Linked DNA regions of Homo sapiens: region 2 is linked to region 1. The links come from fine-mapping of genetic effects on gene expression. A gene starts in region 1. The other region holds a variant in brackets. All regions are shown on one strand. Distances are from middle to middle.

Region 1 (9,154 bases):
TCATCAAAGAGGAAATATTATGCACACCTTTCCAAGTACAATCCTCTTTATAGACTTTAAGCCAAATTTCTTGGCTCCTATGGTGGACTGTGTTAATTACTTTTATGGGTTTCTTGGCTATAGGGAACTGGATAGTTCAGTGGGCTCAATATGAGTGGATTAAAGTCCAATGACTGAAGGATTCAGTCATTTCTGTAGACATCTTGTAAACTTAGTAAGTTTCTGTCACATGGGCTGAAATTAGAGAAACGAATTCCAGGCTTGCACAAAAGATAAACCTAGGTCCATGTTGATAAAATATGCTGCAGCAGGAATGTCCCATAGATACACAGTATCTTCATTATAATTACATGTTAACATATATGTATTTAATTGTATCTTTGCATAAAATCAATTCTAGAAGAAACTTAGGGAGTGATTAATGTTCAACAAATTACAAGGGCAAAACCTAAGATTTTTATTGTGTTGTTTTTATAACCTATATCAATATATTTATTATTTTATTAACATCATGACTCCTTCAAAAGAAAAAGTGTATGGTAGAATATTTCATTCTTTTTAGCAAGTGTGAAGGATCTTGGAGGTTAGCTATTTGGCTTTAATATAAAATAAAAGATAAGATTAAATGAAAGCAAATTGATAGCCACAGTCCATACATAACCTTTATTAAATATATTAATTTAGTTCAAATTGTTTAAAGAGAATATCAGGTGTCTCCTTTTTAGCTTTCAAAAGGGAAATGTTTTTGTTATTTAGAGTAGAAAAATATCAGAACAATATTCTCATGATGTTTATATAAGACATTAAGGAAACATTACCATGCCAACTATGATTACCAAGAACGCCTCATTGTGTCATTTTACAGCTAGTCTTTTAGTATTTAAAATTGTAGTAAAACAAGATGTCATGTTGCATACAGTTAAGTCACTTTGATAAGAAACTTTACATTTATGAAAACAGACTTTTAAAAAACAGATGTTATGTGCAAACAAACACAAATATAATTCAAGGAGTCGGCAGTGCATACATTTACACAATACATTTATACAAAAAAATCCCACCTACTCCAATTCCCATTTCCCATTTGAAAAGGCAACCACAGACATTAGATTTTTTTTCCTCCAATAGATTTTCTAAGCATATATAAACTAATACACACAGTTTTTATAAAATGGCAATCATCTATATACTTTTCTGTGTCTTTTTCTTTTCATTTATTAAAATGTCTTGATGTTAATTACATTTCAGTCCATATAACCTCATTCTTTTTAATGGCTGCAACATAATGTATTTAACTGGCTGCCTAATGACAACAAGTTAAATCGTTTCCAAATTTAGGCTATTACCAAAAATGCTGAAAAAAATATTTTCTTCCTGTGGATCTGTGCATTAAATTATTGGAAGCAGAACTGATGGATCAAAGTTTTGTACATTTTTAAAGATACTATCAAACTGCACTCTAAAGAATTTGAATCAATTTAGACCCCAGACAAAAAGTTACATTCCTAATACAGTATTTTATCAACATTTTTGTAGTAGTCAATCTGATATATAAAAAAAAAAAATTGGTTTTATTTTCCATATATCTCATAATGAGGAGGCTGAGCCACTTTTATTATTTGTTTGAAAGCAATTTGCAACTCTATTTCTGTGAACTGCCTGTTTGTCATTTGTTCATTTTTGTTAGCTTTTCATTTGTCTTCTTTATATGAAAGGTATTAAAATTTTATATTAAAATTATCTTTTCAAAACTTATCATTTGTCTTCACTGCATTTTTGTCATGCAGTTTTATTTTTGAGGCAGGGTCTCTTTCTGTTGCCCATGCTGGAGTGCAGTGGCATGATAATGGCTCACTGCAGCCTTGACCTCCCAGGCTCAATCAATTGTCCTACCTCAGCCTCCTGAGCAGCTGGCACTACAGGTGGGTGCCACCATGCCTGGCTAATTTTTAAATTTTTTTAGAGGTGGGGTATCGCCATGTTTCCCAGGCTGCTCTCAAACTCCTGGGCTAAAACAATCTGCCCACCCCTGCCTCTCAAAGTACTGTGATAACGGGCGTGAGCTACCGCCACCCAGCCTTACCATGCAATTAAAAACAATTTTTTTCCAACTTTAGATGTTTTTCTTTTTAAGGACTAGCATATCTATCTCTTTCATCCTGAAGAATGAGTACTATAAAAATGAATTTTAGCACAATGCTGGTGAACATATGAGTATGAACATTGCTGTATTTTTTGTTTATAAAAGTTAACTGGTTGTGAAATCCCTCAAGCAAAATTCTTCACTGCTGTTCTTGCAATAAACATCATAAACATCAATATTAAGGAAGGGGATTTTAAAGGAAGCAGCTGAAAGAGGACACTTATAAAAGAAAAAAAATGAGACAATATGAAAGGTTTTGTGAAATATATTTCTTCTGTAGTAAATGACAGCTAATATATTCAAGAAGGCAATGTTCTGTATAAATTACTATCACTATCAATTTTTCCTTATACACACGCATACATTATAGAAATGTGTAAAACAACATCACTACTCATAATAATATAATTCGGCTGTGTGTAAAACATCACTACTCACAATATAATTCAGCCTATATTCCAAATTATTTACAAAAATATAATTACTACACTACACACACACAGACACACACACACACACACAGTGTTTCAACTTGTTGTTTCATTTTGTGTTTTAACTTTATGTTTTGGACATATTTCCAAGTTAGAACATTTAGAGCTACAATGTTTTAAACTGTATATTATTCCACCTTTGAATATACCATACATTATGTAACCAATTCCCAATCAATGGCTACAGAGCTGTATCCATGTTTTCTACATTGTAAACAATCCTACTTTAAACATCTTTGACAGAGATTTTTATTTGTACACTTGGGAGCATGTTTTGCTGGATAAATTCCAGTTAAGTAAATGAACATTTGTAAATCTGAACAGCTTTAACCCTAAAACAGCTTCACCAATTCACATTTCCACTAAAAGTTTGTAAAATTATATTTTCCTCACTGCATTTTCAACAACACCTAAAGTTATCAGACTTTCAAAATTTGTAAAATTAATGCAAAAATTGATGTCTTACTTCATATATGTTTTGGATAATTAGTGTGGCTAACAGTATTCACTCTGCTTATTATTTGCATTTCTTTTGCTTTGAGTTGACTCTTTTTATCCTTAACTGGGTCATTGATTTTGAAGGTCATTAATAAGATTTCTAGGTATATTAGCAAAATTATCTTTTTTTTTCTATTAACAATGTCCGCAGTTTGTATCTTTTTTGGGGGATGCAAATGTTAATAAAAATCATGTCCCTAAATGGGTCTAGGTTTTTGTATTATGCTTAGAAATGCTTTTCCCACATGCAATGTGCACAAATATCTATTCAGGCTTTCTTTTTCCCTTTTTAGGCTGCATATGTTTAGATTTAAACTAGTAAGCCATCTAGACTACATTTGTCTATTAACAGTGAGGAAAAGTTCCAGTTTTATTATTAGGTTTCCCAAACAAATTCCTGCTTGTCCAAGTACATTCAATTAAATGTTATTTCTTCTTCCCACCCAGTGATTTAAAATGTATGCTTATCAAATGCCAGCTTTCCTTTTATTCTTCCATGTCTCTTCAGTTTCATTTACACATCTGGTAGTAGGTCTACTGCACTGTCTTTTAATCACCACAGTTTTGTAACACCTTTTATTATATGAAGAAGTCTCCACTATATATATGTGTGTATGTATAATATTAAATGTTAAAATCATATATAATATATAAAATAAGACATAATTATATATTTTGTATTTTATTATTTGTAATATATTATACATAACGTTAATATGTTTGTTCTTCCACATGAGCTAAACAGTACAGTTAAAAACAGTAACAAAAATATTCAGTTAGGATTCTACTTATACGTTGTTTTAGAGAAATGATATCTTTACCTAGAAGAATGTTATGTATTTTATTGGATTCTCATACATACCTTTTTATATCTTCTTAAAAATAATTTCTCAATTGTGTGTTATTTCATGCCAAACTGAATTTTACTTTATTTTACTGTATTATCTAGTTTATGTATAAACATCAACTGACTTCTATAAATTAAGTATGATGCAATTGGAAACTTTGATAAATTCACTTATGCTTCCCATCAAATTTCAGTGTTTCCTATGGACATTAAGGTATACACTCACATCATGCATAAAGTGATAATATGTTCCCCTACCTGTTGTCACTCGCCCATAGAATTCACAACCATGTCACAGAGTGTAATGATTAGCATTCTTGTCTTTTTCAAATTTAATGGAAATGCTGCTAGTATTTCACAGCTATCCATGAGAGCAGATAGACAGATGGAGGTTGTGTTCTATTACTATTACAGGAGAATGCAATTTAAATTAGGCAATCTATTCCCCTTTAAGCAGTATCAAGTTTGGTGCATTATATCTTCACAAGTACTTATTTTGGTGGCTCCATTCTAAATGCAGTATAAAATTAAAAACTAAATTGTAGATCCTAAGAGAAGATAAGGCCACAAAATAAAATCCTAAGTCTTTAAATATGAACGTTTTTAAAAACAAATCAAGCACAGCCCCAAATCGCCCCAGTTTGCCAGAATTGGAAATAAGAGAGAGGGATTCTCTCCTGTCACCGCCTCCACTCGCTGAGCAATTAAAAAGTTACTATAAATAGCGTTTTTACCTGCGAGTGGCCTGGCCTGAGTCCGTGAGAGCCGCGCCGTAGAAACGCCAGAGACCCATGAGAAACCCAATCAAGCGAGACCTGTCACGCAGAGCGAAACGAAAGGGCCGCCCCCGTGAAGTGCAGCCAGGACCCCCATCCCTGGGCAGGAAACTGCTCGCTCCCAAACCCTCTGCGTCTGCAGTGCAGACGCGCGCCCGACACCACGGAACTTCTGCAACCACCTGAGGATGCGACGCGAGCGCAGTGTCCGGGAACTGCTAGCGCAGGACGCCGCGCAACCTCCGCGCCTGCCCGCAGGCACCGCGGCCTCGGGCCTCCCCTGACGACGCCCTCGGCCCCGCAGCCCGGGCGCCCGCGCCACCCTGTCCTGCTCTGCGCCCGCCTGTCCAGCCCCACTCACCGCCTGCCCCGCAGAATGCTGGGCACCGGGGACGCCAGACGCCGGGTCTAGTTGTACTGGCAGAGGAAAGGGAAAGGAAAGGAGGCAGGGAAGGGAGACGGAGAGGATTTTTCAAGTTATAAACAAAGTAAGCGCGCGGAAGGGAGGGCTAGGCGCGGGTTCTGGGGGCGGGTCCGGCACGCCTGGACCCTCCTTCCCCGCGCGCGGCTTCCCCGTCTCGGACCCCGCCCCGCGCTGGGAGAGCCGCCAGCCCGGGGGAGCGTCTTCCTGGAAGAGGTGGGGCACCCTGAAGTCCGCTGAAACCTAAAAGCCGAGGGGGAGGAAGAAATGAAGAAAATAAGTTGTCACTACTCTAATAAGAGGTGAAAGAAAAGATAAAAGCCAGCCCACGGTCACTTCCAATCAGAGGGGCAGGTTGCAGGGCCTGGGAAAGGGAGCTTTGTTCATAGATTACTGCGCCTAGAGAGAAAATGAAGAAACCCCTCTTTCTCAAGAGCCTTTTTTATTTTTTTATTTTTATTTTTGATACGGAGTCTCACTCTGTCGCCCAGGCTGGAGTGCAGTGGCGCGATCTCGGCTCACTGCAAGCTCCGCCTCCCAGGTTCAGGCCATTCTCCTGCCTCAGCCTCCCTAGCAGCTGGGACTACAGGCGCCCGCCACCACGCCCGGCTAATTTTTTGTATTTTTTACTAGAGACGGGGTTTCACCGTGTTAGCCAGGATGGTTTCGATCTCCTGACCTCGTGATCCGCCCGCCTCGGCCTCCAAAAGTGCTGGGATTACAGGCGTGAGCCACTGCACCCGGCCTCAAGAGCCTTTTTGATTTGCATTTGCGCCCACCCCCAGGTCCTTGGCTTGGTGATTTAGCCTTGGCAATGCCGTGCTGGCTGGAAACACTTGGGCATAGGGCCCAGAAATTCTGTTTTCTTTTCCACAGAATTGGGGGAGGCCAATTTGATCTTGGAGGGAAGGCGGGAGAGACGCCAATAAAGGGGAAAGGGAGCAGGTTGCCCATGTTTTCTGACATTGGGAGAAAAATGCCATTTGCTTATTACTGTTAGGCACAAATATTTCTTTCAGACCAATGGGATTCAGTTCTGTGGTGGTGCTTGGAGAGAAGCACAATACACTGACAGGAAGTGGGAGAACTGAAGGTCCTCTGACCTTATAAAGAATCAGAACTGGACAGAAGTAAGCTTGATTAAGCTCTGAGGAGTACTTGGCAGAACCCCATTGTGGGAGAAGGTTGGAAAGGGGAAGGGATGTGGGAGTGGAGTTCTAGAATTTTATATTTTTCTTTGTATGTGTGTTATTTGTTAATATTCATGTGAGAATAGATTAAAAAATTCATACTGTTCTTCTCAGTAATAATTGCACAGAACATTTCTCAGATGCAGACATAGTGTTTTACTGAAAGCATAAAACAAAGAAACTGGTGGTGAAACTAAATTATAATAGCATATGTTACTGTTGGGAGCAAGCCCCCCAAAATCTGGCCATAAACTGGCCCCAAGACTGGCCATAAACAAAATCTCTGCAGCACTGTAACATGTTCATAATGGCCCTAATGCCCAAGCTGGAAGGTTGTGGGTTTACGGGAGTGAGGGTGAGGAACACCTGGCCCGCTCAGGGCGAAAACCGCTTAAAGGCATTGTTAAGCCACAAACAATGAGCATGAGCGGTCTGTGTCTTAAGGGCGTGTTCCTGCTGCAGTTAATCCGGCCCATCCCTTCGTTTCCCTTAAGGGATACTTTTAGTTAATTTAACATCTATAGAAACAATGCTAATGACTGGTTTGCTGTTAATACGTGGGTAAATCTCTGTTCGGGGGTGTCAGCTCTGAAGGCTATGACACCCCTGATTTCCCACTTGACACCTCTATATTTCTGTGTGTGTGTCTTTAATTCCTCTAGCGCCGCTGGGTTAGGGTCTCCCCGACTGAGCTGGTCTCGGCATGTTACCTTTGTTTAAAATTTATGAAAGAGGCCAAGTAATTGAGCTTATGAATGTAAACATCCACAGTGGCCACGTGAAGATACCAAAAATTTCAAGAGCAAAACATGTCTTGTGAAACATATTGCTTTGAGGGATTAAAATAAAATCAAGTATGTCATATACCCCAAATCACAACTTTCGAGGGGAAGAAGAAGAACTCAATTTCCTGTTTTTCTGAAATTTCCTGATCTGATGACTTTCCAACCTGGACATTTCGAGGGATGACAAATTAACTACTTTTTATACTAATCCCATTTTAGTTGCTCTGTTGCTCCAAGTGTATTTCTTCGTGTTATTTCCTTTTCACTGGTTGTTCTTAGGTTACCACAGTCTACTTAGAGTTAATAATGTACCACTTCACATAAAGTTAAGAAATTTATAATTACTTTACAGTTCCTCAATTGTATGTGCAAATGCTATCAGATTTTACATACCCATTAATTATAGACTTTACACAACAAAATGTTTTAAGTTTTGCTTAACTAGTGCATTGTCTTTTACAGAAATTAAAAGAAGAAAATAGCTTTTCTATATTTCCACATATACACAATTTCCTGTGCTCCTCGTTTTTTTTCTTATAGATCTTAATTTCACCTATTATCACTTACCTTCAGGCTAGAGACTTTCCTATAGTAGTTCTTGTTATTTTTGAGACAGTGTCTCACTCTGGTTGCCTAGGCTGGAGTACAGTGGCACAACCTCAGCCCACTGCGGCCTCGACCTCCTGGGCTCAGGTGATTCTTCCACCTCAGCGTCCCAAGTAGCTGAGATTACAGGCACATGCCACCATGCCCAGCTAATTTTTTTTTTTTTTTTTGGAGGGGGGAGACAAGATTTGGCTTTGTTACATGGACTGGTCTAAAACTCCTGGATTCAAGCAGTCTGCCTGCCTTGACCTACCAAAGTGCTGGGATACAGGTGTGAGCCACTATACCTAGTCCCTTTAGTATTTCTTGTAGTGCAGAACAGCTACAGACAAAATCTTTTTAGATTTTTAAATCTAAAAATGTTTTTATTTTGTATGAATTTTGTAATGATATTTTTACTGGTTATAGAATTCTGGGTGTACAGATTTTTTTTATTTTATTCCCCAACAATTTTGACCTCCATTTTTATCTGACAGAATGCATATTGTTGGTTTTAAGAATAACTTTTTATCATTGGTTTTTCTGCAGTTAGTCTATGATGTATGCTTCTTTCTGTATTCTACTGTGGTTTTCTGAGTTTCACAGATACATAAGTAGATATTATTCACAAAATTTGAAAAACTTGCAGTCATTATTTCTTTACTGCACCATACCCATTTCTCTCTCTTCTCCTTCTGGAAATTCAGTTCAATTAATTGTATGTTGGACCATATGATACTGACTCACAGCTCACCAAGACTTTATTTACATTTTTTTGATTTTTTTCTCTTTAAGTTAAATAATTTCTATGGATCCGTCTCAAAAATATGCTGACCCTTATTTCAATCTACTGTTAAGTCCATTACAGTATTAACACTTTTCAGTGCTAGTATTTCTATTTGGTTCATTTGTGCAGCTTCCATGTCTTTTGATGAGATTTCACATCTGTTCATTCACTAAGACCATCATTTTCTTAACTTTTTAACTTATAATAACTGTTTGATAAGGTTTGGATCTGTGTCCCTCCCAAATTTCATGTTGAAATGTAATCCCCAGTGTTAAAGGTGGCCTGTTGGGAGGTGTTTGGATTATAAGGGAGAATCTCCTGTGAATGGCTTAGTGCCATTGCCTTAGTGATGAGTGTGTTCTTGCTCTGGTAGTTCCTGTGAGATCTGGTTATTTAAAAGAGTGTGTCCTCTCCCCTCTCTGTCTCACTCCAGCTCTTGCCATTAATACACCTGCTCCCCGTTTGCTTTCTGCCGTGATTGTAAGCTTCTTGATGCCTCACTAGAGGCAGATGGTATCACTGTGCTTCCTGTGCAGCCTGCAGAACCATTTAAACCTGTACAGCCTGCAGAGCCAATTAAACCTCTTTTCTTTATAAATTACCCAGTCTCAAGTGCTTCCTGTACAGCCTG
Region 2 (9,154 bases), 29 kb before region 1:
GCTACAAAGATGTATAAGAAAAGGTGAATGGTTGTCACGAAGCAAGTAATTGACATAATCATAGGTAGATGCATAGCATGTTAAGGGATTAGACAGGAGGGGTACCTAACCTATGCAGAGAAGGTATACTACGATATAGATGCTAACACACTAGACCTAGCCAGCATCTCCATGATGGGGAAAGGTTTTACAGGCAAACGGACAAGAACAGGCAGGTGCATAGAGGAGGCTCACTACTGCAGGACGAACTGCTGTGTGTGGAGATTTAGCAGACAAGGCTAGAAAGATAGGATGAAGATTATGAAAGACCTTGAACTTTATGCCAATCAAATGGAAAGTAAAGTGATTCATTTTACATTTAGAATTCTTTATATATGAGGTCAGATTAGGCAGGAAGTACTTGCAAGGGTCTGGCTAGAAGGCAAGGAAGGCTGATTTTGGTGAAAGGAGCAGAGAGTGGAGAAATGGTAATTGACATTTAAGATACAACATTGACTTTGAAGTGGACTGGATATGAGAAAAGATTCTCAAGTTTCTGGCTTGGGATCCTACAGGCCTCCAGTGTATGGGAAGAATGGAGAAAGAAAATAGAGTTTAGAAGCAAGATAACAAAGTTGGGCTGGTGATCATTGAGTTTGAGATTCAATGGTCTTTCATGAGAAGCAGTCTATAGGTGGTTGGAAGTGCAAGTTTAGAGACTATCAGACTGACATGATCTGTGGATATGTATTTCATAAGTGATGAAGGAAAAGGAAACCTTCAGTATTAACAAGATCACTTAGAAGAGTGTGTAAAAGGAAGGGTGACTGGGAGAGGAGAGAGAAGGAGATGGGGAAGGGCAGGGAAAACCAGGGGAGTAGACCAAATAATTTTGAGAACAGCACTTTTTAAGAGTAGGGACACAGTTTTTGACAGAAACTGACAGTAAGCAGACTAAAGGGAAAATAATGGTAACAGGAAACAATGTCAAATGAGAGTTAAGTGAGAAAAAAAGTATAACGTATTTGGAAAAAAGTGAAGGTAAGTATGTATTTAAGTTTGTTATGAAGAATATACTTTAATTCCTTTAAGAATTGTATTTAAGAGTACCCGAATTGGACTAGAAATCAGATATCCATACCTTCTTTTTTTAACTATTATTAAAAATAACAATGTAACTAAAAATCATATGAATTATCTCAAGAATATTAATCATTATATCACTTCAATGAGTTAATGATTAATTTACCATGTACTTTTAATATAAAAGCACCTCATGTTATAAAATTTGAAGATCAATAAATCAGAAAAAAATTGCCATTTAGATTTTGAGGCTATTCGTATAGAGATTATATTTTTTAAAATTAAATTTATATTTATTTTAAAATTAAATACATATTTATGTAATTGAACAATTTTTGTTATAAGTATGTATTATCCAGAGATAAAAGAAGGAAAACATATGATGAAATTATATGTGGGAAATTGGTATATTATACTTTCTTCTAAGCTTTGAAGTTTTCATAAGAGTTCTGATTGCTTCTGCAGGAAAACAAAGCAAAACAAAACAAAATATGTTTAACTTTGTGTAACTATAGCATCTCAGACTTACGTAAATAAAGACCTCTGTTACGGAGCGTTGTCCTACCAATACTGGTGTAAGACACACTGTCTGATAGGATTTGAGTTTTTTTAGTTATTTTGAACATCAGGAAATCATGCCATTTTCTCTTTAAATATACTAAATATAACAAAGGTTTCTTTATTCTCTTAAACAAGAATAGTGGATAAAATTATTTTTGTGGGAACACATATCCAACACCATAATGCAAATTGGAATTATGTAAAGAAATTGGGATAAATTCATTAACACTACATAATTCAAGTACAGATTTCAAGATTCTTAATTTGAGTCACAGAGACAATTTTTGTCAGTCTTCGTAAGTTTATAGTCCAGCCACCAGGTGGCGATCAGAGCGAAATTTTGCTATATTTTATAACTGAAAATTCATTAGTTGTGTGGTCTGCACTATAATATTTTTACAACTTACCTTGTCATTTAATTTGAAGGATGTAGCCTACTCTCTTGCTGAATTATTGATATACAGAAGAATAGACATACGCTTTATCAGATGAGAACATGATGTATAACCAAGGTTTTTCTCAGAAATGGTGAAGTTTCTGTTCTAGTAGGGTCTAGGTTTTTGGATATAGAGTAATTGGTAAATATAAGATAGATCTTGTATATCATGTTGGAAGTCACTGAAGTGACATATAGAGAAACGATAGATAAAGCATGATTATAATTTAATAATTTAATTTTTAATACCTTGGATTTAGGAAAGGTTGCGCTATTAATGCAGTATGTTATAATGCATTTTATCCTCATAACACACATACACATTAGGAAGAGAAAAAAGGAAATCCTGATGCTTTCAGAAAACACTGTAGGTGCAGAAGCCACCTGAGCTGTATGGATCATATGCCTAGAGCCAAAAAAAACCTTTGGCCGGGCACGGTGGCTCACACCTGTAATCCCAGCACTTTGGGACACTGAGGCAGGTGGATCACCTGAGGTCGGGACTTCGAGACCAGCCTGACCAACATGGAAAAACCTTGTCTCTACAAACAAAAAACAAAGAACAAAAAATAAAAAACAAAAATTAGCCGGGCGTGGTGGTGCATGCCTGTGATCCCAGCTACTCCGAAAGCTGATGCAGGAGAATCACTTGAACCTGGGAGGTGGAGGTTGTGGTGAGCCAAGATCGCACCATTGCACTCCAGCCTGGGCAACAAGACTGAAACTCCATCTCAAAAAAAAAACTTTTGCCATTATCTTGTGCCATTATCTTGTACATAGCAGGGTTTCTTTTCCCCCTTCAGAGCATAACACAATGGTTTCTACTTCTAAATATACGCTTAAATATGTATTTTAAAAAAATATTACTACAGTGTCTACATCATTATGTAAGTCATTAAAATGTGTTTAAAGACAATACTAACTATTTCCTTGGCCAAAAGTAAGGGCACTTTTAATTTTTAAAATTTTAAACTTGGCCAAATTGTTTTCTAACAATCATAATATCTCAAATTCACACTAGCACTGTATAAAGTATTCATTCTCCCAAGACATCACCAGTAGTGCACTCAGACTTACAAAAATATTTGCCAGAAAGATAAGCTCCTTAATCAGCACCCATGGCCATTCACTTCCATTTCTCTGCACATCTTCCATGTGTCTCATGCATGCCTCATACCAGATTTTCATGACCCTGTACTTACGGACATATGATTCTTTCTGCTAAGGATAGTCCTTTCCCCCTTTTCTTTGCTTGTGAAATTTTTATCATGACAGCAAAACTTGACCTCCTTAGTCAGGGCTTTCCTCAAATCCCTGGCAATGTCAAATACTGTCTTCTGTGTCCTTACAACACTCTCTTCATATCTCCATATAGAATGGAGAGAATGTCATCAATATTTGCACAACTTCCATCTAAAAGCCTGTAAATCCTATGGCTACAGGAATATATTCTAACTGACATATAGTAAACTATGTGGCACCCTATTGGCATCCAATATTTATTTACTTATTAAATCAGTCAATTAATTTGTTCGCTTAAAAAGCAATTTTAATCATTAGTATGGTTTTTAGCAAAGGAGAATATCTTTTATGAATATTTAACCCACCTGGTAAAAAATGAGAATTGTATTCAGGAGGAGCATCAGGCCTTGGATCTGGTGGTTTTGTTTGATTTTCCATTTCACCTGCAGGCTGTTCAGGGGCTGTGGGTACCACACCTTCAGGGGAAGACAGGGAACATGACTTACAAAGGAAACAATAATATAATGACAAAATGTATTCTTTTTCCTTTCTTATGGGAATGCATCAAGAAATATAATCAACTGGAAAATACACTCCTATATTTTTTAAAGAAAGAATTCATCATATATTAGACACTATTAATAAATTTCATGAATTTTCAAACTGAACATAGATTTAAAAATAGAACTAAACAATTATATTATGCTTGTGATCAAAGCAATGAGCTTTCATACTAGTGGTTCAACTGCCCCGATGCTAACTCTTATCTACAAAGTAAATTCCTGGCATAATAGCAAAAATTATTTTTCCCTTTACATAATATGGAGAACACAAGCATTTATAGAGTGAAGTTGATTTTTTTTCCTAATTATTTTTGGAAAGTGCTGTCTAAAAAGATTCACAACATAACACCATAAACAAATAATGGTTTAATAAACAGTGGTGTCACACACAACTGAATTAGCAATAGTTTAGTCTACATCTCCAGTGACTCACATTTTCACTGTATTCTTTCTAAAAGCAATCTAGGTCACAGTAATTGCTGCAAGGGAGGTACTGAAGTCAGTTTCATGATGTTGTACCTTGTCTTCTTATTGAGATTAGAGACTAATTTCTCTCTCTGCTTACTACAAAAAAAAGCTGAGTTTCCTAAACAACCAGTTGACTTTTATCTCCTAGCAAACAAAAATCCCATAAATGTGGTTTTTCTCTCTTTATGTAAGTTACTAGAAAATACAAGGCCTACTTTCATCCTCCTCTACCAAGGCAGGACCTTGCCACAGGCTCTTTATTACTACAACCTCTCTTTGCAGAACTGCTTTGCAAATCTTGCTTTTTTTATTACCTAATTTTCCCCACAAACTTCAAAGATTATTCAGTAGATATGTGTCCCACTGTAAGTCCCTTTTTAATCTTTTTCTGACAATGATAGGAATGTCTATATACATAAATAACAAATATATACATACATATATATATGCAAACACACACACGTATTTATATTTGCCAAATGTTAAACAAAAAAAAATCGAAATAAAGTCCCCCTTTAGGGAAAATAATCACAAAATTCACATTTGAAAATAAAGCATATTCAAATTTATTCACAAAAACTTACCTGACATTTTGAAGAATTCCAATTAATCCTGAAAAATAAAAAATGTTAATGCCTTTAAAATACATACATAATAAATAGTATTGCTACTCAGTAACACAGGTAAGGATTTCTGTAATTTTTTTAACCTCCAGTTACCTTACATTTGTCCCTTCATTAATTAAAAAAATACTTATTGAGCACCTATTATGTACGAGGCACTAATACAGATGTT[G/A]AGAGTACAGCAATGAAGCAGACAGACACTCTGCCACCTACTGTGCTGCAGTTTATATTGTAGTAGAATGAGATTTAAAAAAAGTCAAGAAATGTTAAAGTTTAACGTTAGATAGTACAGTTATGAGGAAAACAATGTAACAAGCTTAAGAGAAACACGGATGGTAAGTTCTAGGAGAGTCAGGGAAAGCCTGTCTCAGGAAGTGACCTTTGAGCTGTTTCAACTATGAAAAATAAACATCACACTACAATTGTGGGAAGAGAGTTCCAGGAAGATAGGAAATTAGTGCAAAGGGTCAGAGATGGCAGTGAGCATGGGATACTGAAGGGAGGAAAAGAGAAAGTGGTTTAGGAGTGACTGGGCCACAGTGAGTGAAGCGAACTGAGGTAAGACATGCAGATAAAGGTCTGATCTCATCTGAAGGCCATGGCAAGGGGTTTGGCATTTTTGGTATTTGCAACTGGGAAGTCTGGAGGATTCAGTCGGTGGAGTGATCAGATCTGACCGACATCATACAATGAGAGCAAGAGTAGAAGCAGGGAGCAGTGAGGGATGGCAGCAGCAATCCAGGTGAGAGCTGACACCAGCTTAGATGGGGGAGGTGACACTGCAGGTTAGGAGTGTTCAGAGGCATGATACGGTTTGGAAGCAGGGCCTCCAGGAGTCGCTGATGGACTAAGGTAAAGAGAGGAGTGGAAGAGGGTTCTGAGTCATAGCCCAAGGTAACTGAGTTGACGGTGATCCTATTAACAAAACTAGAGAGGAGGATAGTGGGGGAATAGTGGGGATGGAGGAGGGTAAGAATTGAAAGTTTAGACTGGGGCATGTTTAAGAAGAGACTAAAAGAAGTTAAACATTTAAATTAAAAATATGTATGGGAACATTATGAGAATAACTCAAAGAAGAAGACTAGAAGTTGAGACGAGATTTGAAACAAGGAATGAGGGTGAAGGTAAATTTTTCTGAATTCAGTCAGGCAAAAAAAAGGCTATTATTTGAGAAGGGAATTTCAATATATCTGAATTTCTGAGTTCTGAGTAATGACAAATAACAAAAAGAGTATCAACAAAGGCTATAATTTACTGAATGCTTATCAAGTGTTAGGCAAAGGGCCCAATTCTTTTCACATATCTCTGATTATAACAACTCTCTAATGTGTAAATGGCCAACCCTGCTAAAGGCAAGTGCTTCTAAATCCTAAGCCTATGTACTTTTCAATATGTGATCATGTTCATAAGAATACAGTCATTTGCGTTGTCCAAGTGGAGTAAAAAAGTATCAAGTTAGAGTAGGTCAAAAAAGCATTCAAACAACGTATTAGTGAGTCATCAATATGGACACTGAGCTGACTCAATGAAAACTGCCATGGTACGAGCCAGTATGCAGATTCCCAGCTGAAATGATTGTCTTGCCAAGACGGGTGAAAGTTTAACCAGTCTTGGACCATCTCCACTCACCTCTGGAGCTGGAGTTTGTTGTACGGTGCCCTATGTGTCTCCAAGCTTAAAAAATACATATAAATATATTTTAAAACATATATATTTACTTTTATATAATATATATTATGTAAAAATGTTTTAAATATATATTTAATATATATTATATATTTTTACATTTATATTTTAAATATATTAATATTTAAATATAAAATAATACAAATATATAATAATTATAAATAATAAATATTTATTTATTTATTTATTTATTCTGGGGCATACCAAAAAGTCAGACCCAATTCTGGGCCAGTAAAAGGAGTTCAAGGGGTTAGTCATATTCCTTAATGATGGTAATCCCTGTTGTTAAGGAAAATGACTACAGCTTTCTAGAAATTTAGACACTCCTAGTTATGTACCTGGAAGTGACTCTTGCACATGCACACAGGATATAGACAAGAATGTTCTTGATAACACTATTCATATTTAAAAGAATGAAAACTTGCCTAATGTCCATCAATGGTAGACTGAATAAATAAATTCTGGTACATTCACATGATACAATAATATCCTGTAGTGAAAACAAATTATAGCTGTGCACGTGGACAGAGATGTATCTCAAAATTATAGCACAACAGAAAAAGCAAATCACTGGAGAATACATGTAGTATTGTGTCCAGAATTGGTGGGTTCTTGGTCTCACTGACTTCAAGAACGAAGCCGCGGACCCTCGCGGTGAGTGTTACAGCTCTTAAGGTGGCGCATCTGGAGTTTGTTCCTTCTTATGTTCCGATGTATTCGGAGTTTCTTCCTTCTGGTGGGTTCGTGGTCTCGCTGGCTCAGGAGTGAAGCTGCAGACCTTCGCGGTGAGTGTTACAGCTCATAAAAGCAGTGTGGACCCAAACAGTGAGCAGCAGCAAGATTTATTGCAAACAGCAAAAGAAAAAAAGCTTCCACAGTGTGGAAGGGGACCCGAGCGGGTTGCCAATGCTGGCTCGGGCAGCCTGCTTTTATTCTCTTATCTGGCCCCACCCACACCCTGCTGATTGGTAGAGCCGAGTGGCCTGTTTTGACAGGGTACTGATTGGTGCATTTACAATCCCTGCGCTAGATACAAAGGTTCTCCACGTCCCCATCAGATTAGTTAGATACAGAGTATGGACACAAAGGTTCTCCACGTCCCCATCAGATTAGTTAGATACAGAGTATGGACACAAAGGTTCTCCAAGGCCCCACCAGAGCAGCTAGATACAGAGTGTCGATTGGTGCACTCACAAACCTTGAGCTAAACACAGGGTGCTGATTGGTGTATTTACAAACCTTGAGCTAAATACAGAGTGCCAATTGGTGTATTTACAATCCCTGAGATAGACATAAAGGTTCTCCAAGGCCCCACCAAAGCAGCTAGATACAGAGTGTCCATTGGTGCACTCACAAACCTTGAGCTAAACACAGGGTGCTGATTGGTGTATTTACAATCCCTGAGCTAGACATAAAGGTTCTCCAAGGCCCCACCAGAGCAGCTAGTTACAGAGTGTCCATTGGTGCACTCACAAACCTTCAGCTAAACACAGGGTGCTGATTGGTGTATTTATAATCCCTGAGCTAGACATAAAGACTCTCCACTTCCCCACCAGACTCAGGAGCACAGCTGGCTTCACCTAGTGGATCCCGCAGCAGGGCTGCAGGTGGAGCTGCCTGCCAGTCCCGTGCCATGCGCTTGCACTCCTCAGCCCTTGGGTGGTCGATGGGACTGGGTGCGGTGGAGCAGGGGGTGGTGCTCGTCGGGGAGGCTCGGGCCGCACAGGAGCCCATGGAGGGGGTGGGAGGCTCAGGCATGGCAGGCAGCAGGTCCCGAGCCCCGCCCCGCAGGAAGGCAGCTAAGGCTTGGTGAGAAATCGAGCACAGCACCGGTGGGCTGGCACTGCTGGAGGACTCACTACACCCTCCGCAGCCACTGGCCCAGGAGCTAAGTCCCTCATTGCCCGGGGCCAGCAGGGCTGGCCGACTGCTCCGAGTGTGGGGCCCGCCAAGCCGACGCCCACCCGGAACTCCAGCTGGCCCGCAAGCGCCGCACGCGGTTGCCGCTGGCGCCTCTCCCTCCACACCTCCCTGCAAGCTGAGGGAGTGGGCTCCAGCCTTGGCCAGCCCAGAAAGGGGCTCCCACAGTGCAGTGGTGGGCTGAAGGGCTCCTCAAATGCCGCCGAAGTGGGAGCCCAGGCAGAGGAGGTGCCGAGAGCGAGGGCTCTGAGGACTGCCAGCACACTGTCACCTCGCAGTATGATTCCACGTAAGAATGTTCAGTAGCAGGAATTCTAAACAAAATACTTCATCTGATAAATATATAGAGGAAAGCTTTAAAGAAATGCTAGGGAATTAAAAACACAAAATTTCAGAAAAGGGTTATGTGTAAAGAAGTGATGAGGGGTGGCTGTTTAGCTGTGGCCCACAAGGAACCCTAAGTTCCTGCCAACATTAAAATTCTATTAGGGTGATAAGAACAAGGCTAATGTCTTGTCATTAGTTTTTAAAAGGTATGTACATGTTTAAATATGCATATTTATATGCATTGCATTATTTCACAATAAACAAGA

Evidence for each region. PIP is the estimated chance that this variant, and not a neighbour inherited with it, causes the effect.
Region 2: its variant is the best candidate, but not a certain one, in a credible set for the expression of PLSCR4 in sigmoid colon (GTEx, PIP 0.86).

What each region holds. Positions count from the first base shown.
Region 1 is chr3:146,245,844-146,254,997 of GRCh38, forward strand. PLSCR4 (phospholipid scramblase 4) reads right to left here and starts at 5,262. Exons shown (of 9, transcript NM_020353.3): 1 at 5,117-5,262.
Region 2 is chr3:146,217,149-146,226,302 of GRCh38, forward strand. It overlaps PLSCR4 (phospholipid scramblase 4), which reads right to left. Exons shown (of 9, transcript NM_020353.3): 2 at 4,917-4,944; 3 at 3,667-3,777. The coding sequence starts at 4,923. Among named protein-coding and RNA genes, the nearest start is that of PLSCR4, 29 kb to the right of the region's middle. The variant G/A (reference allele first, on the strand shown) is at 5,128.